4 linked regions of the Homo sapiens genome follow. The protein of the gene in region 4 purifies or fractionates together with the protein of the main gene of each other region. This does not show direct contact. Each region holds a gene or a part of one and is shown on either strand. Other genes may lie near its edges.

Region 1 (7,027 bases), on a different chromosome or scaffold from region 4:
CGCCTCCACTGTGGCATCCTCGGCACCGCTGTCGTGCCCGCTGTCCGGGTCGTACCTGCAGAAGCGGGTGTTGGGGACGAGATTGTTGAGGGATGGAGTGACGGATGAGGTACCAGAGGGAGACGCTGGAAGGATGGAATGTTAAGGAGCAAGAGGTTGAAGGGATGGATTTTGGGTGTTGAGAAGAAAACGCTGAAGAGGCAGGGGTTAGAGTATAGGGTCAGGGGTTTGGGTTTGGTGGAAAGAGAGCACTGAGAGGAAAGCACATTGGCAAGAGAGGGGCAGGCGGACAGGAAAGACATGGCATTGGTATAGCCCGCGGAAAGGCATTGAGAAAAATGGTCTTGGGGAAATCATGCTGGGGAGATGGTTCTGAGGATTAGAGGACATTGGAAGAATCCGAGATTAGTGACTAAGAAGAGAAAGGATGTTGGGAAGGTGGGTGTCGGGAGAGAGATGAGGGTGGATTGGTGTCACAAATGAAGGGTGTTAGAGGTATGCGGGGTTGGGGACAATGGGGTTTAGGAGGGGTTTGTGTTGGGGAGAAAGCATTTTGAAGAAATAAGGTGTTGGGGGATAGAGTGCTGGGGAGAAGGCTTAGGATGCAAAGCATTAGTGGGAGGGTGTTAAATAGGGAGTTGGGGCCAGGCACAGTGGCTCACGCCTGTAATCCCAGCACTTTGGGAGGCCAAGGTGGGCGGATCACGAGGTCAGGAGATTGAGACCATCCTGGCTAACACGGTGAAAGCCCGTCTCTACTAAAAATACAAAAAATTAGCTGGGCATGGTGGCGGGTGCCTGTAGTCCCAGCTACTCGGGAGGCTGAGGCAGGAGAATGGTGTGAACCCGGGAGGTGGAGCTTGCAGTGAGCGGAGATCGCGCCGCTAGACTCCAGCCTGAGCGACAGAGCGAGACTCCATTTCAAAAAAAAAAAAAAACAGGGAGTTGGGGAGAGGAGGGTTATGGAGGTGGGATGTTTAAGGGAAGAATTTTTTTTTTTTTTTTTTTGAGAAGGAGTTTTGCTTTTGTCGCCCAGGCTGCAGTGCAATGACACAATCTTGGCTCACCGCAACCTCCACCTCCCGGGTTCAAGTGATTCTCCTGCCTCAGCCTCACGAGTAGCCGGGGTTACAGGCATGCGCTACCACGCCCAGCTATTTTTTTTGTATTTTTAGTAGAGATGGGGTCACTCCATGTTGGTCAAGCTGGTCTCGAACTCTCGACCTCCAGTGATTTGCCTGCCTCAGCCTCCCAAAGTGCTGGGATTACAGGCGTGAGCCACCGCATCCGGCTAAGGGAAGAATTTTAAGATACGGGTGAAGGAGGTCTTGGAGAGCAAAGGTTTTATGGAGAAGGTATGTTGGAAATGGAGTGTTAGGAAGAAAGGACACAGATGCTTGGAGAGATGGTGTGTTGATCCAGAGTGACAGATGGTTGGAAGGAAGCAGAGATGGCTCCCTCTTCTATCATCCCTTTCCCTGACCACACGACATGCTCTGAAAATCAGTCCTCAAAAGCCCTTTTGCTGAGCCCATGCGTCTCCTGGACACAGGCCTCCCAGCCTGGCTTCCAGGCTCCTACTACTTCCTCCTAATCCCCTCCCAGCCCCACCCTAGCAAGTCTGTGCTCCACTTGCCACCCCTTCTGTGCCCCTCACTCCCACCAGGACCCCCACACCCCATCCCTTCCAGAGGGGTCTGACCTGGGGCTGATCACATCGGGGGCACCCTGGAAACTTTCTTGAAGCTTGCTCTCCAGCCCGACGCCCACCTTGACCAAGTAGGAGGCTGGGTCTACGGCGCAGGCCCAGTAGCTGCGGCCCTGGGTCACAGCCACGTCGCCCAGGACCACATCCACACTCAGGTGGCAGCCGGTCAGCAGCCGGTCAGCAGCCAGCAGCAGGGGCAGCCCTGGAACACTCCGTACTGCTCGCTGGTCCTTGCTGATAGCCAGCCGCTCTCGGCTTGCGCCCCAGCGGCTATCGAGGAAGAAGTGCAGGACTGGAAGGAGGGAGAGGGTTGAGATGGAGCAAGAACTTCAGGGACAAACACTGGCACTGGGGGCTGTGAGACTGCAGAACAGGGAACGCGTTGCAAGGGGGTTCAGTCACCAGGAACAGGCAGGGGGTTCAGGAGAACAGGACATGGGAAACTGGAATGGGGGGCATGAGGAAAAAAGAAGGGGGCATTCCAAATGGGCGTGGGACCCCAGAGAGTTTTTGTGATGGCAGTGGGCACAGAAGTCAGTGCTCCGGACCTGGCTGACTCATGGGGCTCCCTCGAACCCCTTACTTGTGGCCAGCCCCATGGACAGTTCCCACTATTCTGTTCCACCTGGTGACATTCCCATCACCATCAATCTGTGCCTTCCAGCCCATACTCTGGGTTCACACCTGGCCCTTATACCCAGCCCCTATTTGGGTGGCAAGGCTTCCCTCTTATGCCCACCCCCTGGAGTCCGAACTATTTTCTAGTCACTTTAGTAACATTCTTGAGCCCTAACCATGAGCCGGACACTGTACTCAGACTCCCATTGATCGTCTCAAACCAGTTGAATTCTTGCAACTCTATGAGGTAAGCATTATCATTTTTTAAAAATATATATATGTTTTTGAGACGGAGTCTCACACTGTTCCCCAGGCTGGAGTGCAGTGGCGCAATCTTGGCTCACTGCAACCCCTGCCTCCCAGGTTCAAGCCATTCTCCTGCCTCAGCCTTCCAAGTAGCTGGGATTACAGGCGCCTGCAACCACACCCAGCTAATTATTTTCATTTTCATTTTTAGTAGAGACGGGGTTTCACTATGTTGGCCAGGCTGGTCTTGAACGCCTGACCTCGTGATCCATCCACCTCGGCCTCCCAAAGTGCTGGGATTACAGGCGTGAGCCACTGTGCCCAGCCAAAAATAATTTATTTTTTACGTATTTTATTTACTTATTTATTGAGACAGAGTTTCACTCTTGTTGCTCAGGCTGAAGTGCAATGGCGCGATCTCGGCTCACCGCAACCTCCGCCTCCTGGGTTCAAGCAATTCTCCTGCCTCAGCCTCCCAAGTAGCTGGGATTACAGGCATGCGCCACCACACCCAGCTAATGTTGTATTTTTAGTAGAGATGGGGTTTCTCCATGTTGGTCAGGCTGGTCTCAAACTCCCAACCTCAGGGGATCCACCCACCTTGGCCTCCCAAAGTGCTGGGATTACAGGTGTGAGCCACCTTGCCTGGCCTTTATTTATTTATTTATTTATTTATTTTTCCGAGACGTCGGAGTCTTGCTCTGTTGTCCAGGCTGGAGTCCAGTGGCGCGATCTCAGCTCACTGCAACCTCCGCCTCCCAGGTTCAAGCGATTCTCCTACCTCAGCCTCCCGAGTAGCTGGAATTGTAGGCACGCACCACCACGCCTGGCTAAGTTTTGTATTCCTAGTAGAGACGGGGTTTCACCATGTTGGCCAGGCTGGTCTCAAACTCTTGACCTTGTGATCCGCCCGCCTCGGCCTCCCAAAGTGCTGGGATTACAGGCATGAGCTACCTCGCCTGGCCTATTTATTTTTTTAGAGATCGGGTCTCGCTGTGTTGGCCAGGTTGGTCTTGAACTCCTGGCCTCAAGCAATCCTCCCTCCTTGGCCTCCCAAAGTGCTAGGATTACAGGCATGAGCCGCTGCACCTGGCCAGTATTATCGTTATCCCTACAGAAAAGGACTCTGAAGTTCAGAGAGGGTAAAAACTTGCCAGAAGCCACCCACACAGTTGGCAAGAGGCAGAGCTGGGATTTGAACCCAAGCAGTCTAGCTCCAGAGCTAGTGTGTGTGAGACCTACTATGTTATATGGCCTCTCTAGCGGCCACCGGAACCAACCGTCAGGGCCTAGGCCCTGGCATACCCCATGCCCTTTGCACGACCACCTGTGCCTGCCCACTCACCAGGTGCCGGGGGCGTGTGCAGGTGCACATCTTCACTGTATTCGCCGTAGCCGGCCTTGTTGCAGCCGCGGACACGCAGCACATACACAGAGCCCGTGTCGGGGTTCTCAAGCAGGGCACTGGTGCCCCTCACCTCCTCCCGCCGCTGCCAGCGGGTGGGGCCTGGCTGAGCAGGCACATCCGTGCGCCGGAACTCAACGGTATAGTGCCAGGCAGGTGGTGAATGGGGGGGCAGCCGCCAGCACAGGAAGATCTGATCATAGGCAAAGGTGCGCTGGGTGTCAATGACGGGGGCCTCAGGCACTGTTGGAAGAGACAGCGGGTGTCAGTCAGGGCCTGGCCACTGGCCTGGCATGGAGGGCAGGGGCAGGCAGGAAAAGGGAAAGCAGCGGGAGCCGGGGGGGTGAGTGTGGGTGAGAGGGAGCTGGGGAAGGGCTCATCTGGGAACTGGGCACAGGAGGGGTAGGGCAGGGCCCAAGAGAGAACGAGGCAGGAAAGCGCTGGGCTGGGGGTCAGGACACCTGTGTGCTAGTTCTGGGCTGCTGCTACCTCACTCTGGCCTGGAATAAGTCACTTCCCCTTTCTGGGCCTCAGTTTCCTCCCCTGTCAAATGAGGGTATCAGATCAGGTAAGTTCTGGGGGCCCTTGCAGCTCAGTTATTCTATGAATTAAGAGGAGCCCCAGGGAGGGGCAGGCAAAGGCCACTGGAGCCCACAGGCAAGAGGGCGCTGAGCAGGAAGGAAGGGGACCAGGCTCAGAAGAGAGATTTAGGAGGCAGCGAGGTGGAAAGTGGGGACAACAGAGGGACAGCAAAAGCTGAGGGCAGGGGTTGGAGGTCAAGGGAAAGGAAGTGCAAGGCCAGAGGGCAAGGGTCACAAGGACAAAAGGTCAGAAGGGCCAGGATTACGCAAGCGCCTGAAGAAGGCAGAAGGGAGACAGGGCATTGGTCCAGTGGGAGGACCACGAGGTCGGGGCAAGGCAGGAAAGAGAAGGAAGCAATGAGTGGTTGGCTGAGATGCGTGGGAGCAGCGGGGTGGGAAGGGGGCCCGGCGGCGGGCAGGGCCCCCGGGGCAGGGCCGCTGACTTGCCTGGGGTGCTCCGGAGCAGAGTCCGCGGTGGCCACAGCCTACAAACAAAGAGAGGGAGAAGCAGCGCTGAGCGCGGTAGGACGGTGTGGCAGGGTGGGCTGGGTGGGAGGAATGGCTGGCCAGGCCGGGCAGGAGGCCGGGGAGGTCCCCGGTAGGCACTGCCCCCCGGGCCCGCTGCTGGGGAGGAAGGGAAGAAGGCTCTGGTTGGGCATGGGGCCTGGCCATCTCCTTACCTCGCAGGAAGTTAAGCTCTGTCAGCAGCTTCATCTCACGTCCCACGTCGAGCTGGCAATGGCGGAAGGAGGAGCTGGCAGCTGGCCGGAATGTCTGGAGGGCTTCAGTGGCTCGGGCAATCCTGGGATGGGGGCAAGAAAGGGTCAGGCACTGCCATGTGGGCAGTCTCCCTTCCCCTCAATTCTGTCTTGCTTGCCCCTAGAGCCTTGGGAACTGCTTTGGGAGCTGGTATCAGTTTGGCCTCATGAGAATCCTTAGAATGCCAGTTCTCCACCTGGCAGTACTGTAGACATTGTCCTAGATGTTGGTCACATCCATGATGTCCCTGCCCCCCTAGGAGCCCATGCCCCTGAGTACCTGTTGTGCAGCTGCTTGGCGGCTTGCACAAAGCAAGGCTGGTCTGTTTCCTTAAGTACTTCCTGGGCATAGCCCACCAGACCTGAGCCATCCAGCAGGCTCCGGTGCTCCTGGATCTGGGCGCTGAGACGGGCCAGCCGCTCCTGCTGGCATTCTTCAATGGCCTGAAGCAGTGATGCCCGCTTCTCCTCCAGCACAGCCCCCAGCCCCCGCACCAGCTGCGACACCTCCTCCTTGGCCTGCTGACCACTCACCTGCCCAGGGAGCAACACCCAAAGGATGCGTGACTTACTATCTTCTTTTTGGAGGCAGCACTTGTGCTGGCCTCCTTGGATGCCACAGCATGGCTAAGGTCACAAGGGATCTGGGGAAATCCTACTCACCCATTCCTACAGGGCCTGGGCTCATGGCTGCAAAGGCACCTCTAGATGGACTCAACTCCTGGTCATTTGTGCCAACCTTCCCGGAACCCCACATCATAATCTCTGCCCCTTAGTGACTCATCCAAATGAACGAGGCCATGGCTACCCTAATGTCCACTTGGACTGCACTAATTAATGTCCACTGGCATCTATGCCATCCTTAGTTGTCCATCCCCATGTCAGCCAGCTCAAGCAACCTGGCAGAAGGTATCAGTCATCACCTCACTCTAGCACTGGGAATGCGTGACATCCTCGGTAGGCACCTGAGCCTGAGAGCATCTGAGCTACGCGTGGGGTTTTTTGAGCTATGCATGGGGTTTTTCGAGCACTCTCCTGAGCTATAGCCACCCTGCCCCCTCCTGCAGCCCAGGTACAGCCTGGCCTGGGGCACTGGTGTTCCTGCAAACCTGGTTTAACCAGAACCTGGACACCTCACGGGCTTCCTGAGCTAGCAACAAGGTGATTGGGTCATGATCACCCACACCCCCTTCCTGCCCCTACTCCCAGGCAGGGCCCAGGGCCTACCTCTGTGCCCTCCCTCACCTCGGTGTGCCTCACGGCCTCCTCCAGCTCACAGATCTGGGTCTGTACCGTGTCCTGGTTTCCCAGGATGTATGTCAGGCTCTTTGTCAGCTTGTCCTGAGGGGGAAGAAAGAGGTGGGCATCAAGCCCAGCTCTGCAGAAGCCAGCAGTTGGGAGGAGGTGCAAGAGGGTAAGAGTGTGAGTTAGCACTAGGGTTGGATAAGGGGGGTCCTTACCTTGAGGGCCTGGTAGGCACTGAGCACTGGTGTGATCTTGTGCCCGCTGTGGGTGCGCCGCACCCGGCAGAGTTGACATACCAGGCGTTGGCATGTCTTGCAGTAGTGGGTCACCTCTTCCTTGTGGTCTGGGCACATAAGGCCCTAGGGACACAAAGAACAATGTGATGGTCAGACAATGGTGTGGGTAAGGGTGCTATGCTACCACTACAGCAGTTTGGTGCCCTCCTCCACTGGCAAGATGGGAGTGG
Region 2 (7,027 bases), on a different chromosome or scaffold from region 4:
ATGGGAGAAAATTTTTGCAATCTACCCATCTGACAAAGGGCTAATATACAGAATCTACAAAGAACTTAAACAAATGTACAACAACAACAACAACAAAAACAACCCCATCAAAAAGTGGGCAAAGGATATGAACAGACACTTCTCAAAAGAAGACATTTCTGCAGCAGACACAAGAAAAAATGCTCATCATCACTGGCCATCAGAGAAATGCAAATCAAAACCACAATGAGATACCATCTCATGCCAGTTAGAGTGGCAGTCATTAAAAAGTCAGGAAACAACAGATGCTGGAGAGGATGTGGAGAAATAGGAATGCTTTTACACTGTTGGTGGGAGTGTAAAGTAGTTCAACCACTGTGGAAGACAGTGTGGCGATTCCTCAAGAATCTACAACTAGAAATACCATTTGACCCGGCCATCCCATTACTGAGTATATACCCAAAGGATTATAAATCATTCTACTATAAAGAAACATGCCCACGTATGTTTATTGCAGCACTATTCACAATAGCAAAGACTTGGAACCAACCCAAATGTCCATCAATGATAGACTGAATTAAGAAAATGTGGCACATATACACCATGGAATACTATGCAGCCATAAAAAAGGATGAGTTCATGTCCTTTGCAGGGACATGGATGAAGCCAGAAACCATCATTCTCAGCAAACTATCACAAGGACAGAAAACCAAACACCACATGTTCTCACTCGTAAGTGGGAGCTGAACAATGAGAACACATGGACACAGGGCAGGGAACATCACACACTGGGGCATGTTGGGGGGTAGGGGGCTGGGGGAGGGATAGCATTAGGAGAAATACCTAATGTAAATAACAAGTTGATGGGTGCAACAAACCAACATGGCACATGTATACTTATGTAACAAACCTGCACGTTGTGCACATGTACCCTAGAACTTGAAGTATAATAATTAAAAAAAATTATCTCAAGTACCTATAGTGATTCTATTAGGAACAATTATACCCTTTCTCCACATCTTAAACCAAAAACGAATTTTTCTATGAATTAAAGACTGAAATTTAATAACCATAAAAATAATTTTTGTTTTTATTTTTTGAGAGAATCTTGCTCTGTCACCCAGGCTGGAAAGCAGTGGCCCGATCTTGGCTTACTACATCCTCTACCTCCCAGGTTCAAGCAATTCTCGTGCCTCAGCCTCCTGAGTAGCTGGGATTACAGGCATATGCCACTGTGCCCAGCTGATTTTTGCATTTTTAGTAGAGATGGTGGTTTCACCATGTTGGCCAGGCTGGGTTTCAAGTGGTCCACCCGCCTCAGCCTCCCAAAGTGCTGGGATTACAGGCGTGAGCCACTGCACCTGGCCAGCATAAAAATAATTTTTAAAAGACAGGTGAATATTTACATAGTCCCTTGCCAGAGAAAACTCTTCCAACATGCCAAGAAAGATGGTAATCTTTACGAAGGAAAAGAGCAATGGTGATCTGGCCAAATACAAGTCAAAACCTTTTCTATGTACAAGAATGTTCACAGCATTGTGGCATTCACAATAATGTTACAAAAGTGGAAACAACCCAAATATCCATCAATGGACAAAACAAATAAAATGTGATGTGTGTGTGTGCATATATATATATATATATGCACACACACACACTGTACTGACACATGCTATAACGTGGATGAACCTTGAAAATGTGCTAAGTGAAAGAAGCCACATATTTTACAAAAGGCCACATATTTTATGACTCTATTTATATATAATGTCTAGGATAGACAAATCCACACAGAAAGTAGATTAGTAATTGCCAGGAGATTGAAGGAGGGAAAAATGAAAAACGGGGAGTAATTGCTAATGAACATAGAGTAATTAAACATTCTGGAGTTAGGTGACCAATAAACAACTTTCCGAATATACAAAAAAATCACTGAATTGTACACTTTGAAAGGGTGCACTTTATGGTATGTGAATTTTATCACAATGTTATTATTTTCTTAAACCTTCTGAATGTCAAAAAGTAACACGAGCAAGACTAAGAGAATAATGAAATAAATATGAAAGAAAGTTTACTCTTAACAAGATTCCTTATAAAATAAGAAAAAGTCAAATTTACCAACAGAAAGAGGGACAGTTACAAAAAGGGACTTTTTAAAAAAGAAATGGCCAAAAACCCCATAAATAATCAAAGACAAAATTAATATGAGATTATTTTACCTATAATACAAGAATTTTTTAAAATAACTGCCATTTTTGTTTCCCCTGAGGATAAATAAACACTTTCTGACAAAAGTTTTAAACTCTTTGAAATGTTCTTTAAAATTCAATTTCCAGAAATTTGTCCTTTAAAAAGGGCCAGGGCTGCAGACACAAATAGCTACAAGGATGTTGTTTTAACCCAGTCTTTTGGATGCAATTAACTGTAACTGAGATCTACTCAAACCAGCTTTTGTTTGTTTGTTTGTTTTTTAAAGGAGACTTCAACACAAGGATATCTTAACAGAGCCCAAGGTCAGGAAATACAGTCATCATTTATAAGAGGCATTTAAAAAATCAAATCATGACACTTCTCTGCTGAAACTTTCCAATGGCTTTTCACAAAATTTAAAGTTCAAACTCCTCAAATGCTTAGTTCTGACCCTGCATCCCCCACTCATTTCAAACTGACTGCCCCCAGCTTCTTTTATGACAGTCATTCCAAACTCCTTTCTGTTACCGTAAACACATCAAGCTCTTTCCCATCCCAGTACCTTCTCATTTACTGTTGCCAGTGTCATGAAGATTCACCACCCCTCGAATCCCTATAGGAATACTCTTTCTCCAGCTTTCATCTTGTCTAACTCACCCTTACTCTTCAGATCTTAGGAGAAAGGTCTCCTTGGAAAGGCCTTTCTGATCTCATTCTCCTCAGGGTTATGACCCTATCTATCTTACATTACTTATTTAACAGTTCTTACCACATTCTGTATTTTTTTTTTTTTTTTTTTTTTGAGACGGAGTCTCACTGTATCGCCCAGGCTGGAGTGCAGTGGTGCGATCTTGGCTCACTGCAACCTCTGCTGCCCAGGTTCAAGCAATTCTCCCAACTCAGGCTCCCGAGTAGCTTAGATTACAGGTGCCTGCTATGGCGCCCAGCTAATTTTTGTATTTTTAGTAGAGACAGGGTTTCGCCATCTTGGCCAGGCTGGTCTTAAACTCCTGACCTTCTGATCCACCCACCTTGGCCTCCCAAAATGCTGGGATTACAGGTGTGAGCCACCGCGCCCAGCCACATTTATATTTTTTGGTGTATCTTCTCCATTAGAATAATAGCTCCAAGAAGGCAAGGGACTTGTCTGCCTTGTTCCTTCCACCCCTGTGCCCCCATTATAGTGTCTGGCATATAAAAGACATACGTATCATTGCATGAATTGGCTTTCCAAAGCCACCAGGAACCAAGCTAGCTTCAATGTCAACTTCAGCCTCTCTCAATCTCTCTTTCTCTGGGGTTCCAGGGCTGCTTACCTAGCTCACATTTCCTTTAACTGAGACTGTGCAGCATATCTAAATCTTGATATCCAGACTTCTGGGAGATTATCTGACTGGTTAAGGCAAGAGTGAAAGAATAACCTGAATGTCAGAATTCTCATTCTAGGTGGAAAGTAATTACTGTTAAAACCAGTCTGGGCCAACCTCTTCAACGGTATTTCCTAAAGACGTGTGCTTTAAAATGCAAAAGAATTAGAAGTATCCTAGTTGGATAAATTCTAGCACGCACATCTGTAAAACACAACACTATTCAATCACTTAAAATGTTGATGTAGGCCAGGTGTGGTGGCTCATGCCTGTAATCTCTGTGCTTTAGGAGGCTGAGGTGGGAAGACTGCTTGAGCCCAGGAGCTTGAGGCTGCAGTGAGCTATGATGGCACCACTGTACTACAACCTGGGCAACAGCATGAGAGCCCTGTTTCTAAAGAATAAGAAAGAGTTGATGGAGGTCTAGACTGATAAACATGGGCGGAAAGCCATGATATATTTTTAGTGAAATATGTGTGGTCCAACACAACAATGTACAATAGTCATTATTATAAAAATGTTTCAAAATATTAAATATTTCAGAACAAATACACAAGTTTTGAAGACTATACATATATAAAAATAACCAGGGGCCAGGCGCAGTGGCTCATGCCTGTAATCCCAGCTTTGGGAGGCCAAGGCGGGCAGATCACGAGGTCAGGAGATCAAGACCATCCTGGCCAACATGGTGAAACCCCGTCTCTACTAAAAATACAAAAATTAGACGGGTGTGGTGGTGCGCACCTGTAGTCCCAGCTAGTCAGGAGGCTGAGGCAGGAGAATCACTTGAACCCAGGAAGCAGAGGTTGCAGTGAGCCATGACGGTGCCACTGCACTCCAGCCTTAAGACAGAGTGAGACAATGTCTCAAAAAAATAAAAATAAAAATAAAATAAAATAACCAGCAGTTATTTCTGAATGATGGGATTATGGTGATTTTTCACTCATTCATGTCTCTTTCATGTGTTCTGAATGTTTTACAAACAACATGTATTACTTAGTTTTTAAAATTTGATCATTTGTTATCCAAGTAATTCCTGCTTGTATTTAGAAAATCAAATAGTAATGACTGTAATGAAAAACAGTCTCTCTACTGTCTGGATAAGACTCCCACACCTAGTCTTCATCCCTAAAGGTAACTAATTGCAACTCAGTTGTTGCTACTGGATAGTTAACTGCATTTCTCTAAATATTGTGCTTATCCTATAACTTTTTGGCTCATCCATTTTAGACATTATCGATTTACTCATGCTACTGTAGATTAGGATGTAGTTCTGAAACTACCCTCAATATCTCCTCCCTCTACTCTTCTAATATAGATACATCCCTATTTTTAATTGAACAAATAATCCGTGCTATATTGTTGTGACTGTAAGGCTATCTACTAAGTACTATATTATGAATACATTTCCTTCCTCAAAGAGCTTTTTGTTTTCCCTAGAGTTTTAATTTTTCCTTCTTCAATGGTTTTCTCCACTTTAATTTCAATTTTAATTGCTGTACCACAGAACTCACCCCCACCCCTTTATTTTCTCAGAAGGCTTCCCCCTCCAAACCCTCCTTCTTCTCATTACAATCTAGGCTGACTGCCCTCTAGATCTGCTGGCACAGCTGTCACCTTTGGTGTTTTCCTTTACTGCTTTTCTGGGTTACAGCCATTGTTTCCTGAATTCTAATGCCTCCTTCTTTCTTTGTTCACTCCATAGTTTTGCTGAAATACATCCCCAATACCTTAAGAAAGTAATATAAGAAAAGGCACATGGGTTGGCAACTTAGTCCTTGCATGCCTGAAAAGGTCTTTCCTCCACATTTACACTTGATTTAGCAATTCTCTCAGCTCTTGAAAGCATTGCTGTAAGTTCCTCTAGCATCCAATGTTGCCACTGATTTCAATGCCATTCTGTTTCATACAGCTTTAAAGGGATCCTATTTTCATTCTTTCCTCCACTCCCTCGTCATCTCCTTCCCTAAGCTTTCAGGATTTTCTCTTTTTCCTTGGTGTTGTGACATTTCTTGTTTGTTTTTTCTATCATTAGTTTTTCTGTGCATTTAGAAAGCCCCTTCGATCTAGAAATTTGCGGCACTTAAGCTCCGGGAAATTTTCTTGTATCCATTATTAATCATCATCTCTGTTTTCTTTGCTCTTTCTTGAACTCAAATGAGTCAGATACTGGAACTTTCAAACTGATCCCTCATCTTTTATGCATTCTGTATTATCTATCTTTGTCCTTTCATTTATTTTTGTAACACTTCCTTTACTATTTTATAACTGGAGGTTTTTTCAAAGCAAATTATAGTATGATGGAAAAAAAATCAAAGCAATATCTTCAATAAGGAAATGGCTAGACAAATTATGGTACATCCATTCTATGTGGTCATTAAAGAACGAAAACTATATATGCTGATATGTTTCAAGACATGTCACCTTAAAAACTTGTTATCTGCATCCATTAAAGTACAGAGAAAAAATTTAAAATGTCTGGCTATAGAAAAATAGAGGAAAATGGATTTAATTCTTTCAACGAATATTAACTAGGCACCCACTTGTTGCCTGGCACTATTCTAAATGCTGAGGATACGGTAGTGAGCACAAAAGTCCTCTTGGCATTTAGCTGGGGAAAGAGCTTAACTAGAAGTGGCAGCAAGTTAAGCGAAGTATTTTTTTTCCCCAAGCACTGTGAAGCACTGAAGGAAGAGGCCATAACAGGAGGAAAAATGGAGGCACAGAGAGCCAATCAACAGACTCAGGTTGCTGGAAAATCATACCACCAAGGGACTGCTAAGGATGGAAAAGACTTGCTTTGATATCCTGGTTACCAGAGAAAATGCTACATCATGTATCTGAATTCACATATTTGATTATGTTTCTGACAGTCACAAATCCATCCCTCTTCCCTCGTATCTCTAGTTTTCCTAGAAGTTGAAGATGGTAGGACATGGACTCATTTAAAATTATGTCTACAATTAATATGCAGTATGTTTGGACCCCTCTCCACTGATTTTAAGTATCATTTTATTTTATTTTTGAGATGGAGTCTCGCTCTGTCACCCAGGCTGGAGTGCACTGGTACAATCTCGGCCCACTGCAACCTCCGCCTCCTGGGTTCAAGCGATTCCCCTGTCTCAGCCTCCCAAGTACCTGGGATTACAGGCATGCGCCACCATGCCGGCAATTTTTATATTTTTAGTAGAGACGGGATTTCGCCATGTTGGCCAGGCTGGTCTCGAACTCCTGACCTCAAGTGATCTGCCCACCTTGGCCTCCCAAAGTGCTGGGATTACAGGCATGAGCCACCACGCCTGGCCTCCACTGATTATTTAGCAATATTTTTAAGTCTCAAGGGTTTGTCTTGGCCTACAACTTGACAAGGAGCTCAGGGCTACTGTCTCGTGGTCTGAGACAGTCAGGAGACAAAGTATATTTACTCCAAGTACCCATGTATGCTTTTTCCAAGATGAGAAGTTTTCTTTTTGATGTATAAGAGCAAATAATGT
Region 3 (7,027 bases), on a different chromosome or scaffold from region 4:
GGAACCCTCATAGAGAACACCAGAAAAGGGTGTTATAGACACCAGCTTCCTACCACCTGAGACATTACCAATTGCATTTCTAAAATACAAGCATGAGCTCCTCCAGGAAGCTGGTCCTTTACCTGTCCAAATCCTTCCCACTCCCACCTGGGTTAGGTCTACTATTCTCTGGCTGGCATGGCATCCTGTGCATACACATACGATAACACACTGTACTGGAACTGCCTGAACACTGCTTTGCCAGTCTTCATTACCATAGGAGTATCTTGTGATCAGAGGCTTATGTCTTACTCATCTTCTACCATCTTCTACCTGGCATAGTTGGTGCTTAGCACCCCCCAAAATGAATACTTAAATATAAATCTAACAAAACACGCATGGTATTGATATGAGGAAGAACTACCAAACTCCAATGAAAGATAGCAAAAAAAGTGGTAAATAAGGGGAGACAGTGCATGTACTTAGATAAGAAGACTCAACTTTGTCAAGATATCATTTTTTTCCCAACTTCATCTATAGGTTCAGCAAAATCCTTATCAAAATCCCAGCAAGTTATTTTGTGGATATCGACGAACTTGATTCTAAAGTTTACATGGAGAGGCAAAAGACCCAGAATAGCCAACAAAATATTGAAGAAGAACAAAGTCAGAGGACTGAGACTACCTGACTTTAAGACTTACTCTAAAGCTACGGTAATCAAGACAGTGTGGTAGTGGGGAAAGAACAGATATACGGACCAACAGGACAGAAGACAGTGACCAGAAATACACTCACACAAATAAGAGTCAACTCATCTTTGACAAAGGAGCAAAGGCAATTCAACAGAGAAAGAATTGTCTTTTAAACAAATGATGCTGGAGCAGATGGACATCCACATGCAAAAAAATTAACCCAGAATAAACTTTCTAATACCTTATACAGAAATTAACTCAAAAAGGATCATAGACTTAAATATAAAATGAAAAACTATATAATTCCTAGATAACATAGGAGAAATTCTAAGGGACCTTTAGTTTATGGATGACTTTTTAGATACAACACCAAAAGTATAATGCATGAAAGAAAAAGTTGGACTTTATTAAAATTAAAAACTGATAATTAAAACATTAAAAACTTCTGCTCTGCCAGCCAGGCCCGGTGGCTCACGCCTGTAATTCCAGCACTTTAGGAGGCCAAGGTGGGTGGATCACTTGAGGTCGGGAGTTCAAGACCAGCCTGACCAACATGGAGAAACCCTGTCTCTATTAAAATTACAAAATTAGCCGGGCGTGGTGGCGCGTGCCTGTAATCCTGGCTACTAGGGAGGCTGACACAAGAGAACCACTTGAACCCAGGAGGCAGAGGTTGCGGTGAGCCACTGCGCTCCAGCCTGGGCAACGAGAGCGAAACTCCATCTCAAAAAAAAAAAACTTCCACTCTGCCAAAAACAGTGTTAAAAGAATGAAAAACAAGTCACGGACTGGGAGAAAATATTTGCCAAAGACCCACCTGATTATGAACTAGTAGCCAAAATTATACCCGAAAAAAAAAACCCACTTAAAATTCGACAATACTCAAAGAAAAACAGCCTGATTAAAAAATGGACAAAAGATCTGGACACATCACTAAAGAGATATAGATGATAAATAAGCAGACAAAAAGATGATCAACATCATATGTCATTAGGGCCTTGCAAATTAACATGAGATAACACTACACACTTATTAGAATGGCCAAAATCCAACTGACAACACCAAATGTCAGCAAGGATGTGGAGAAACAAGAACTCTCATTCACTGCTGGTAAGAAGGAAAAATCGTACAGCCACTGTGGAAGACAGAATGTTGGTTTCTTATCAAACTAAGTATACTCTTACCATACAATCCAGTGATCCTGCTCCTTGATATTTACACAAAGGAAGTAAAAACTCACATCCACACAAAAACCTGCACACAAATGTTTATAGCAGCTTTATTCATAATTGGCAAAACTTGGAAGCAACCAAGACGTCCTTCAGTAAGTGAATGAACTTTAAAAACTGCAGCACATCCTTACAGTGGAAATGTTGCTCAGCCAAAAATAAAGGAAATAAGTTATCAAGCCTTAAAAAGACATGGAAGAACCTTAAATGCATATTGCTAAGTGGAAGAAGCTAATCCAAACAGGCTGCATACTATATGATTTCAACTACACAATATTCTGGAAAAGGCAAAACTATGGAGACTTTACAGGACTCTTAGCTTTCTTGCTTGTGGACCCTATTTTCCAATGTTATTAAAAACTAGCAGCACAACTGTCACAGTAAAGATGAGATCAGGCAAAATCATAAATGCATGCTAAATCTTGGGTGAGATTTTGATGAGGAGGGAGGTATTTGTGTCTCCCCACAGACTGCCTACTAATTGCAAGGGGATTTAAAAAAAAAAAAAAAAGTCATCATAAAGTGGAGAAACTGGCCCAGCACGGTGGATCATGTCTGTAATCCCAACACTCTGGGAGGCTGAGGCAGGTGGGTTACTTGAGGGCAGGAGTTCAAGACCAGCCTGGGTAACACAGCAAGACTCTGTCTCAAAAAAGTTTAAAAACTAGCTGGGGGTGATGGCATGCACTGTAGTCCTAGTTACTCAGAAGGCTGAGGCAGGAGGATCACTTGAGCCCAGGAGTCTTGGGGCTATAATGATCTATAACAGTGTCACTGCACTAAAGCCTGGGCGACAGAGCAAGAACCTGTCTCCAAATAAATAAATCAAATGGAGAAACACCACCACCTTGACTGGGTGATCAAAAATTAATTTCACCAATGAGAGGCAGATGGATATTGTGTGCCTACAGACGTGATGCCCCGAGAAAAACACAACATGAATGATATATTATTATTAGCCATGAATGCATAACCTGCATCTAGTTAGGAAGAAACATCAGAGAAACTAAATATGAGAACATCTGATTTTAAAAAGGTGAGGGAGGCATATTCTCAAAAAAAAAAAGACCATGTAAATGTTTCAGGTTAAAGAAGGCTAAAGAAACAACTAAATGCAATGTCCCCCTCTAAATTGGATTCTGTACTGAATAGGGAAAATGCTATAAAGAACATGACTGGCCGGGCATAATGGCTCACACCTGTAATCCCAGAACTTTGAGAGGCCAAGGTGGAAAGACTGCTTGAGCCCAGGAGTTCAAGACCAGCCTGAGCAACACAGTAAGACCCCTGTCTCTACAAAAAATAAAAATTTAAAAATTAGCTGGGTGTGGTGGCACGTGCTCGTGGTCCTTGCTACTTATGAGGCTTAGATGGAAGGATTGCTTGAGCCCAGGAAGTCGAGGCTACAGTGAGCTGAGATTGGGCCACTGCACTCCAGCCTGGGTGTAACAATTTTCAAGCTTCATCTTTACAAAGTGTCCAGCAAGTGGGATTTTTTCCCCTCCTTGAGGGTACACTGTATGCTTTAGTTTTTATCCCAACAATGGATACTAAAGGTAATCGTAGAAAAAGGAAAAACGAATTAATATGCCTCCCTGATCTGTATGATCCTATGAGATTATGTCATAAGACATAATTTCCACAACATGGTTCTATGGCCTCCTAAACTGAAAGAAAATCAAACAGTTCAAGCTACAGTAAGTATCTTTCTATCACCTCAGGTATTCATTGTCAATAAGCAACATTACATTAAGAATACAGACAGATTCCTTTTAACTGAAAAATACATCTTTAACTCCTATACCTAAGAATTACAACTTTCAAGTTCATCTTCCATTCTGTCTTTCTCAAAGAACAACCTTTAACATAGTAATTCAATTTTTCTCTATACAAAATTGTATGATATACTTACAGTTTCACAAGTAAGACATCTGGTTTCATTAGTTAATGTTCCCTGAAAAATCTCATGAACCCACGTTGGGTCTGGTGTGCTGTTATTATTTTCATTATCAATATTACCATTAGGTAAACGACCATTTTGTTTTTCCTGCTTTCTCTCTTCTTGTAAAATATCAGCAATTGTATTTAGTAGGTAATTTAAGAATTCATGGGCATCTTGTTGCATGTAGTTGTCAAAAAGCTCTGAAAATAAAAACATTATATTAGAGAATTATTTCAGAATTCATAACTTCATAAAAAACCAATTTATAAAAGAATATCTAGTATTGGATCAGAACTAAAATATAAATGCACAATGTTTTTGTAATGTATAACAAATAACTTTCGCATCTAAAACTTTTATCTGTATTTGGGGAAAATGTAAAATTAATTAAAATCTTGTTTAAAAATACTACTAATTGATCCTGAGAAAAGGGCAAAACCTATCCTTATATATTGGCATAACAGATACTGAGAATTTAAGAAGAAATTGCTTATTAGCTTACCTGACTTATTATTTCACAAATATTTCAACTTGGCAAGCTTTAAAGCAGAAGTTGGACAACCATTTGCCAATGCCAAGCCAACTGCTTTAGACCCACAAAGTTTATCAAAAATAAATTACTGAACCATACATCCCAGGGATTCTGATTTAGTTGATAAGGGGTAAGCCCAGAACGTGGGGCTTTTCAAAGCTCCTCCAACTAACTCTGATGTAGAGTCAGGTTTAAGAATCATGTTATCAAGAATTATCTATATAATCCAGATAATCTCAAGTCCCTTCCAAATGTGAGACTTTATAATTCCACAAAACGTTCCCTGCAGTTACACAAATGAGTAAATATAACTGAAATATTGGTGGTGCTAACATCAAGCGTGCTTTACCCTGTGCTTGGCAATATACAACTCTACCATAGAACAGTAAGGACTTTAGAGGCAGTATCTCATTTGATCCCCAACAACCATGTAATATTGTTATTAACTTTATTTGTAAACATGAAAATGGGACGAGACAGAGTACAGTCACACTGCCAAGAAATGGCAGAGCCAGGATTCAAACTGGGCAGCCTGACTCCACCATGCCACACACAAAGTAATGCCCAGTATAAGCCCACACACAAGAACATACATGAATTGGTCAATAAAATGCATTGAGAAAAATTACCTATTTAGGACATTTTATTTTTAGATCCTCAATGTACATTTAATAAGTTCCAGAAAGATTTTACATTTTAAAAATGAATGCATACAAATTTAGAAAAAAATTTAGGGAAAGTCTAAGATAAAACAAATTAACAATTACATTTTAGAAGAGATACAGATATGACTACATAAAATTAAGTTCTATGTATTAGAAATCTTTAAAAAAGTTTTAAAAAAAGTGAAACCTGAAAATTATTAACATTTTCAACATATAAAAGCAAATCTCATATAAAAGAAAACCAAACTGGACAATCTTATAAATGGCAATCAATTTATAAGAAAAAAACAATCAAAAGGCTAAAAAACATGAGAAAATGTTCAATCCCATAGTAAGTTTAAAAAAAAAAAAAAAGCAGGCCAAGCGCAGTGGCTCATGCCTATAATCCAGCACTCTGGGAGGCCAAGGCAGGTGGATCACCTGAGGTAAAGAGTTTGAGACCAGCCTGGCCAACATGGTGAAAGTCCGTCTCTACTAAATACAAAAAATTCACTGGGCATGGTGGCACATGCCTGTAATCCCAGCTACTTGGGAAGCTGAGGCAGAAGAATCGCTTGAACCCGGGAGGTAGAGGTTGCAGTGAGCCGAGATTGCGCCATTGCACTCCAGCCTGGGCAACAAGAGCAAAACTCCATCTCAAAAACAACAACAACAAAACAGAATACCATCTTTCTTTGCAAAGTCATTGTAAAAACAGAAAGGGAATGAGTGAAGCTTTTTATGGGGGTAGGAGGGCACAGCTGCTAGAGCAAGGCTGTCTGGGTTGGTGCTATGGTTCTACTTCTAACTGCACGCGTGGCATAGGCAACTTATTCAAGCTCCCTGTTCCATAATTCCTCATCTGAAAAATGGGGCTCACAGCAGTACCTGTACCTCACAAGGCTGGGAGGAAGATTAAAAGTGCTTAGAATACAACAATAGGTTTTGTATTCTGTTCAACAACAACCACAGTAACAATATTGGCAATATCACTACATGTTGAATATCCTTTATCTAAAATGCTTGGGACCAGCAGTGGTTGGGACTTCAGACTGCTTCAGATTTGAGAATATTTTCATACACATAATGAGATATTTTGGGGATGTGACTCAAATCTAAACATGAAATTCATTTGTTTCATATACACCTTATAGCCTGGAGGTAACTTTATATAGTACTTTTTTTTTTTTTTTTTTGAGATGGAGTTTTGCTCTTGTTGCCCAGGATGGAGTGCAACTTCATATAGTATTTTTAAAAACTTTGTGCAGGGAAGTAAATTTGTGTACACTGAACCATCAGAAAGTAAAGTTGTTACTACCTCAGCCACCCCATGTGGCATCATGCAGCTCAAAAAGTTTCAGATTTCTGGATTACGGATGCTCAACCTATATAATTGTTGTTGCTACTGAACAGAATACAAAACACATCAAAGACTGACTATGTAAAAACTATGAACTTCTGTATGGCAAAGTCAACATAAATGAAGACAAGTGACGAACAAGGATAATTATTTGCATATTAATATCCAGACTATGTAAAGGTTTAATATACAGAATATTTAAAAAAAAACCCTTTACAAAACAAGAAAAAAAATTTTAAAAACTGGCAAAGGAAAATAGCCAATTCAGAGTAGAAATACAAATGCCTAAATAATACATGACAAGGGACTGGGAAATAACAATTAAAACAATGACAAAATATCATTTTGCCCATCACTTTGGCAAAATAAAAATTGACTTAGTTTCCATCCAGTGTTAGCTTGAGTATGGAGAAATGGACATTCTCAACTGTTGCTGCTGGGAGTATAAACTGGTATGGCACGTTGTAAAGGCAATTTTGGTAACAGATTTAAAATAATGCAACCTAGTTCTCCCAGGTATCGATGCCAGGTAAGTATCTGTGCATGTACCAAAACAAGCATAAATACGGCTGCTTATTTATAACAGCAGAAGTCTGAAAATATCCTAAATGTTTATCAACAGGAGAATGATTTATTTAAATTATGCTAT
Region 4 (7,027 bases):
CCTTAGATGAACTCTAATATAGAATTCTGACAAAACAGCCCAGAAATGGACCCACACAAATACAGTCAACTGATCTCTGAAAATCAAAGAGCAAAGACCATACAAAGGATAGTCTTTTCAACAAATGGTCCTGGAACAAGAGGACACCTACATGCAAAACATGAATATAGATACAGAGCTTACACTTTTCACAAATATTAACTCAAAACAGACCATGGACCAAAATGTAAAACACAAAACTAAACTTCTAGAAGATAACACAGAAGAAAATCTAGGTGACCTTGGGTTTGGCGATGAGTTTTAGATACAATACCAAAAGCACGATCCATGAGATAAAAACTGACAGGTGGGCCTTCATTAAAACTAAAAGCTCTGCAAAAAAACACTGTTAAAAGAATGGAAAGACAAGCCCCAGACTGGGAGAAAATATTTGCAAAACAGGTATCTGATAAAGAACTTGTTTCCAAAATATACAAAGACTCTTAAAACTCAACAATACAGAAACAAACAATCCAATTTACAGTTCTCAAAAGATCTGAACGGAATTCATCACGGAATTCCACTTTGTGATAAACAATGTTCACAAGTAATTGCTAAAGTTCTTCTGAAAGCAAAAATGTTAATTTCTAAAAAAGGAGAAAAGCTATAAAACAGTAGAAATACTGATGTTTCATTATCAAAAGAGAACACCAGAGCATACTACACCACATAGAGTATAAACACAAAACATTTTGAAACTTTGCATTTCAGAATGGGGATGTCAAACTAGAGAACTCTTTCTTCTATTTGGAATAACAAACCAGATGAGCTGGAAATTAGCTAAGGCAGATATTTAACATCCATCTTACAACCCAGCTATCAATATACAGGATCACAAATTAGGATTTTGTATTTCTAATTCACTTTGCTTTTTCTTTGTGCTAGTCACTAACTGATCAGATTTTCCTCCAGTACTGTTGCTGAAACCATCTGCATTGAACTTTTATCTGGATTGGATACAATTTACAGGGCATGATAGGAAGAAAATGGGCCTTCATCACCTCTACACAAAGCAGCCTCCACTGATTTGGGGAGCAGAAGTGACTGGCGGGGAGCGGAACACACCTCTGTGATGATGGCTTTTTGGTCCTTCACCCTTTGAGCCTCCTCTGGGTCCTGCTCCAGGCTGAAGACTTTAGAGAGGGGCACTGGCTTCCCACCTCGGCACAGGACTGCTTGGCACGTGCCAACATTGGCTACAGTCAAGCTAAAGCTACTTGCTGGATCGGCAGTGTCAGGGCGGATGTAGCACAGGAGAGCGGAGGAGCCCAACTTCTGGCCAGCCATTCCTAATTTCCTGTTCAGAAAGAAAAGGAAAAGAAGACGTGGTGGCTAGTTTTAGAAGAAAGTGGTGGTCCTGCACGTACATCCCTTCTTTTTTTTTTTTTTTTTTTTTACCATGTGATCGTGAACCAGCCTTACCCTTATCCACCTAAATGCAGACTTGCTGTGGCTGATGGTGGTGGAGACAGTTCTGCCTTCCACTCTCGCTGAGGAAAAGGTTTTACAAAAGGGAGATAATCTCCCTTTTGCATCTTTCTCCATAGCTTTTGTGTCTGATCAAAGACTTCCTAATTCAGGGGCTCTCAAACTTTAACACATCAGAATCCCCTGAGGGCTTGTCAGAACAGGGACTGCTGGGCCCTAGGCCCAGAGTTTCTGAATCAGTGGGTAAGAGGCTGGCCCAATAAACTATACTTTAAGCAATTTCTGGTGAGGCTGAGAGGCTGCTGTTCCTAGAACAACACTTTGAGAACCACTCACTTAGGTTCTAAGTTCCTCGAGGGAAGGACCATGATTCTTGCATTTCCCCCATATGCAGGGCATCCACGCGTCTGTACTTGGAAACAATGTTAACGAGGAACAGACACTAGCAGAAAGACCTAGTTTCAAATCTCAGCTCTGCCATTTTCTGGCTACAGACACTCAGCAAGCCATTTCTCCAGGAAATTTCTCTGATAAAATATATAGCATGGAAAATACTTGCTACAATTCCTGGCTTGAGTTGCTTCATAAATGGAGTTCCCTTTCCTAAACCCTTTATTTTTGCAAAGTCTCTAGCTCAATTATACTACTGAAAAACTGACTTCTTCCTAACACTTTGCTTTGTGTTATGACAGATAAAACTAATTCAAGCCCATCCTGGCTAACACGGTGAAACCCCATCCCTACTAAAAATACAAAAAATTAGCCTGGTGCAGTGGCTCACGCCTGTAATCCCAGCACTTTGGGAGGCCGAGGTGGGCAGATCACGAGGTCAGGAGATCGAGACCATCCTGGCTAACACGGTGAAAACCCATCTCTACTAAAAATACAAAAAATTAGCCGGGTGAGGTGGCGGGCACCTGTAGTCCCAGCTACTCGGGAGGCTGAGGCAGGAGAATGGCGTGAACCCGGGAGACGGAGCTTGCAGTGAGCCGAGATTGCACTACTGCACTCCAGCCTGGGGGACAGAGCAAGAAGACTCCGTCTCAAAAAAGAAAAAAAAAAAAAAAAAAAAAAAACTAGTTCAAGCTCCAAGCTGTTCCATTTCAACCTGGATTATACAAGTTGACAAACAACCTCTCAGTTGTTCCTATCCTTTATCGGTCCACCTGACATGCAAATGCTCCATTACAGTTAGGTTATACAGATGTCCTCAACTTATGATGGTTCAACTTAAGATTTTTTGACTTCACGATGGTGCAAAAGCAATACTGTATGCATTTAGTAGAAACTGTACTTTGTATTTTGATCTTTTCCTGGGCTAGTGACATGTGGTACGATGTTCTCTCATGATGCTGGGCAGAGGTAGCGACCCATAGCTCCCAGCCAGCCACTTGATCACAAGGGTAAACAACCAATACAGTGCCCTGTGTCACCACATGATTTTGCCCAACTATAAGCTAATGGGGTAAGCGTTCTGAGCACACTTAACGTAGGCTAGGTGAAGCCATGATGTTCGTTAGGTTAGGTGTATTAAATGTAGTTTCTACTTACCACATTTTCAACTTATGATGTCAGGCTTACATCCTTATCAGGGTGTAACCCTATTCTAAGTTGAGGAGCATCTGTATATGGTTTTTGCCCTTAAGTGGCTTATACTTTACTTAGAAGATTAGTTTGGTAAAACCCCAGAAAGAGGCATTCTAAACGTTATCAATCTGATAAGTATTTGGTTAACTGTTTTGTAGGTCACTGACTGCTTGGACAATCTTATGAAAGCTGACCACCTTCCTCCTCAAAATGTACAACCACATATATATACACACACAACATTTTGCACATAAATTCTGGGCTTCCCAGATCCTCAGCAGCCTTTGGATTCAACAGAGAAAACAGATGACCCCCACAGGCTTTTGAAAGAGCCGAAGTCCCCGCACTCCATGCTCATATAGAGAATGATCATAGAAGACAACAACGTGAGTTCTCTCCTTGATCCTGTATCCATAATTTAGACCCTGACCTTCTGGTTTAGAAAAATATATTTTCCAAAAGTAGAACTGAGTTAGGGATTTTTCAACCCACCTGCTTACCTGTGAGATACCAAGAAGGTGTTAGCCATGAAAACTGTGTCATTAGTTGACTGCTGTACCTCTTCTAAAAGCACATCTGCCATCGTACACTGCAGCAGGCGCGGGAGCTCCTCATTTCGGTCTCCATCAAACATGCCATACACAGCTCCCACCCCCTCTGCAAAGCTATCCATAGCAAGTGCTGAGACACACAGCCTATAATAGAAACATGAAAACAGAAAACAGAAAAGTTACTGGTAAAATATTATTCTCCAGGGAGCATTCTTTTTTTTTTTTTTTTTGAGAGGGAGTCTTGCACTGTCACCCAGGCTGGAGTGCAGTGGCATGATCTTGCCTCACTGCAAGCTCCACCTCCCAGGTTCACGCCATTCTCCTGCCTCAGCCTCCCGAGAAGCTGGGACTACAGGTGCCTGCCACCACGCTGGGCTAATTTTTTTGTATTTTTAGTAGAGATGTTAGCCAGGATGGTCTTGATCTCCTGACCTCATGATCCGCCCACCTTGGCCTCCCAAAGTCCTGGGATTACAGGTGTGAGCCACCGCGCCTGGCCAGGAGCATTCTTTTAAAAAGTAAGTATTAATTAAAGGTGGCAAAGACTACTAGCAAATCGTAATCTACACGTAAGAAAAGTCCCTAGACATGATAATTAAGCAACATCTGAAAGAGCTAATGTCCTAAGGAAAGGGGAAACAGTCGCATTCATGGGCAGTACATATTAGCTTTGCAATGCTGCCAAAGGCTGGTAAGATAAAGCACTTTCTCTTAGTAGTGACTAAGGATTAGCTTTGTCAAGGCCTATCAGTCAAAGACCACCAGAGCACACCTATGGTTGAAAAAGTTGAGTTTATTACCCCTTATAGCAAATGAGAGTGCACCCCATGGAACCCCGGGGTATACAGGTAAGTCTTGCTGAAAAGAACCCAGTATAGGGTTTGGACTTTGGTTTGGTCACTTTGGGGAGGGTCTAAGGAAGAGGATCATACTAGACTGGGTGTCATCAGAAAGTGAGGCCATTCTATTGCTGGGTATAAAACTTATCTATAGGGAAGGAAAATTAGCAGAAGGATAAAGCTGTAACTGGTAAAGAAAGTAGCATCTACCCATCTTAGCCATGAAAGGGGGTGTTTGGTATTCTGTTGACTACACATTAGTATTGTTTTTGTCTTAAAACGTTATCATGATCCCAAAGGGATCTTATCTGACGCTGATGTTCTATGATTTGTCTGTGTACAACAGAACAACATGGCCTAGCTATTATGAGCATCAGGCCAGTTCTCAGATGCCAGGGGCTGCCTTTTTTCTTTCTCAGTCTCCATGGCCAATATACTCACTTATTTCTCTGCCCTGCCATCTCAGCCAGTCCATGGCTCCAGAAGGTTGACGTAACTGTAGAATCTGTGGTTGGCAAAGGTTTCTGATCAATTTTCAGGGTTGTGATATGGCTGTGGGAGGTGAAGGAAGATTAAACCATATATTCTTCTGTATTTTACAAAAACTATCCCAACAATAGTATTCTTTTTTTTTTTTTGAGATGGAGTCTCCCTCTTGTCACCCAGGCTGGAGTGCAGTGGTGTGACCTCAGCTCACTGCAACTGCTGCCTCCCGGTTCAAGCAATTCTCCTGCCTCAGCCTCCTAAGCAGCTGAGATTACAGGTGTATGCCACCATGCCCGGCTAATTTTTGTATTTCTTTATTTTATTCTATTTTATTTATTTATTTTTTTGAGACGATCTCCCTCTGTTGCCCAGGCTGGAGTGCAGTGGCGCAATCTCGGCTCACTGCAACCTTCGCTTCCTGAGTTCAAACGATTCTCCTGCCTCAACCTCCCAAGTAGCTGGGATTACAGGCACCTGCCGTAACAACCAGCTAATTTCTGTATTTTTAGTAGAGACGGGGTTTCACCATGTTGGCCAGGCTGGTCTCGAACTCCTGACCTCAAGTGATCCGCCCGCCTCGGCCTCCCAAAGTGCTGGGATTACAGGTGTGAGCCACCGCTCCCGGCTAATTTTTGTATTTTTAATAGGGATGGAGTTTTGTCATGTTGACCAGGCTGGTCTCAAACTCCTGACCTCAGGTGATCCACCCACCTTGGCCCCTCAAAGTGCTGGAATTACAGGCGTGAGCCACCACGCCCGGCCAACAATAATATTATCTTTTTTTTTTTCTCTTTTTTGAGAAGGAGTCTCGCTGTGTCGCCCAGGCTGGAGTGCAGTGGCGTGATCTCTGCTCATTACAAGCTCCGCCTCCCGGGTTCACGCCATTCTCCTGCCTCAGCCTCCTGAGTAGCTGGGACTACAGGCGCCCGCCACCTCGCCCGGCTAATTTTTTGTATTTTTAGTAGAGACGGGGTTTCACCATGCTAGCCAGGATGGTCTCGATCTCCTGACCTCGTGATCCACCCACCTTGGCCTCCCAAAGTGCTGGGATTACAGGCGTGAGCCACCGCACACGGCCAATAATATTATCTTTTAATAAAATAATCTATGGACTGACTAAGATTCATTTCCAGAGAGACTGATGAAAGTAGTATGCTGAACTACTGGCAAAGAAGGAGGGGAGAGAAAGGAAAGGGGTAGGAGGATCAAAGGGGTAGGAGTTTCAATAAAAAACTAAGCACAACAAAGATTTCTATGTTTTAGCCAACCATCTATTTATGTTAAGTATTTTGATACAATGAAGTCTTGGTACAATGGATGAACTTGTATTGTCTCTTAGATATTATATAATCTGTGCCACCTAAAACATCTATGCCTGTTGTGAAAATATTCAGTATGTTGGGGGGTAGTAGCCATGGAGTAGTCCTAATATAAACAGGTTGACTACTGGATAGAACATCTATTCATAACTTAATCAAAGAAGAGAACCTAGGGGCTTTATAGCCTAACTTCATTCTGTTCTTTTAATTAATCAAGATCTCCACAGTACTAAGGAAGACCTACACATGGCTGGTGGGCTAAGAGCACATAGAGATTCCATTTCAAATTTTTTCCTACCTAAATATGTCCAGTGTCTTGTGTTCCAGAACCAGATTTGTATTTCCAGTCAGGTCAAGGTCTTGTAATGTAGCAGGCAAAGCCTCTGGAATCAGGATTTCTGTCAAGTCGTTGCAACTTAGGTCTACAAACTAAGAAAAAATTGAGAAATCAAAAGAAAATACATCACAGAGACTTAGTTCTTTACTCCCAAGTGTCCAATCTCTTACTATATCCCCAAAGAGGAACTTAATTTCTTCCCAGGAATCCATTACATAAATTCTGGTCCCAAACTGGAGCACATAAGAAGACAATAATATTTTTCCTTATAAGAATAATCTCATTCACACTCCTTTCTTCTTCTTTATAAAAGGAAAATAATGTCATTCACTCTCCTGCCATTTCCCCCAATAAGGACATCATTCCAGCACACAGAAGTACCTGGATCTGAGGCAACTGCAGTATTTCTGGGAAAATGCTGATGTTGTTGGAGTGTGCAAC

Evidence for each region.
Region 1: the proteins of PHLPP2 (region 4) and TRIM46 purify together in Homo sapiens (affinity purification with western blotting; 2 studies listed by BioGRID). This does not show direct contact.
Region 2: the proteins of PHLPP2 (region 4) and WDR48 purify together in Homo sapiens (affinity purification with mass spectrometry; 5 studies listed by BioGRID and IntAct, with this or other methods). This does not show direct contact.
Region 3: the proteins of PHLPP2 (region 4) and USP12 purify together in Homo sapiens (affinity purification with mass spectrometry; 3 studies listed by BioGRID and IntAct, with this or other methods). This does not show direct contact.

Annotation. Positions count from the first base shown.
Region 1 is NC_000001.11:155,176,825-155,183,851, reverse strand, and holds part of TRIM46 (tripartite motif-containing protein 46), read right to left. Parts: intron 6,921-7,027; coding exon 6,777-6,920; intron 6,658-6,776; coding exon 6,562-6,657; intron 5,851-6,561; coding exon 5,597-5,850; intron 5,361-5,596; coding exon 5,239-5,360; intron 5,044-5,238; exon of another isoform or gene 5,006-5,043; intron 4,221-5,005; coding exon 3,918-4,220; intron 3,418-3,917; coding exon of another isoform or gene 3,350-3,417; exon of another isoform or gene 3,173-3,349; intron 2,001-3,172; coding exon 1,703-2,000; intron 56-1,702; coding exon 1-55.
Region 2 is NC_000003.12:39,055,016-39,062,042, reverse strand, and holds part of WDR48 (WD repeat-containing protein 48), read right to left. Parts: intron 1-7,027. UniProt on the Homo sapiens protein: Regulator of deubiquitinating complexes, which acts as a strong activator of USP1, USP12 and USP46. Enhances the USP1-mediated deubiquitination of FANCD2; USP1 being almost inactive by itself.
Region 3 is NC_000013.11:27,091,789-27,098,815, forward strand, and holds part of USP12 (ubiquitin carboxyl-terminal hydrolase 12), read right to left. Parts: intron 4,043-7,027; coding exon 3,813-4,042; intron 1-3,812. UniProt on the Homo sapiens protein: Deubiquitinating enzyme that plays various roles in the regulation of the immune response and inflammation.
Region 4 is NC_000016.10:71,651,686-71,658,712, forward strand, and holds part of PHLPP2 (PH domain leucine-rich repeat-containing protein phosphatase 2), read right to left. Parts: coding exon 6,968-7,027; intron 6,679-6,967; coding exon 6,548-6,678; intron 4,997-6,547; coding exon 4,886-4,996; intron 3,750-4,885; coding exon 3,555-3,749; intron 1,337-3,554; coding exon 1,105-1,336; intron 1-1,104. UniProt on the Homo sapiens protein: Protein phosphatase involved in regulation of Akt and PKC signaling.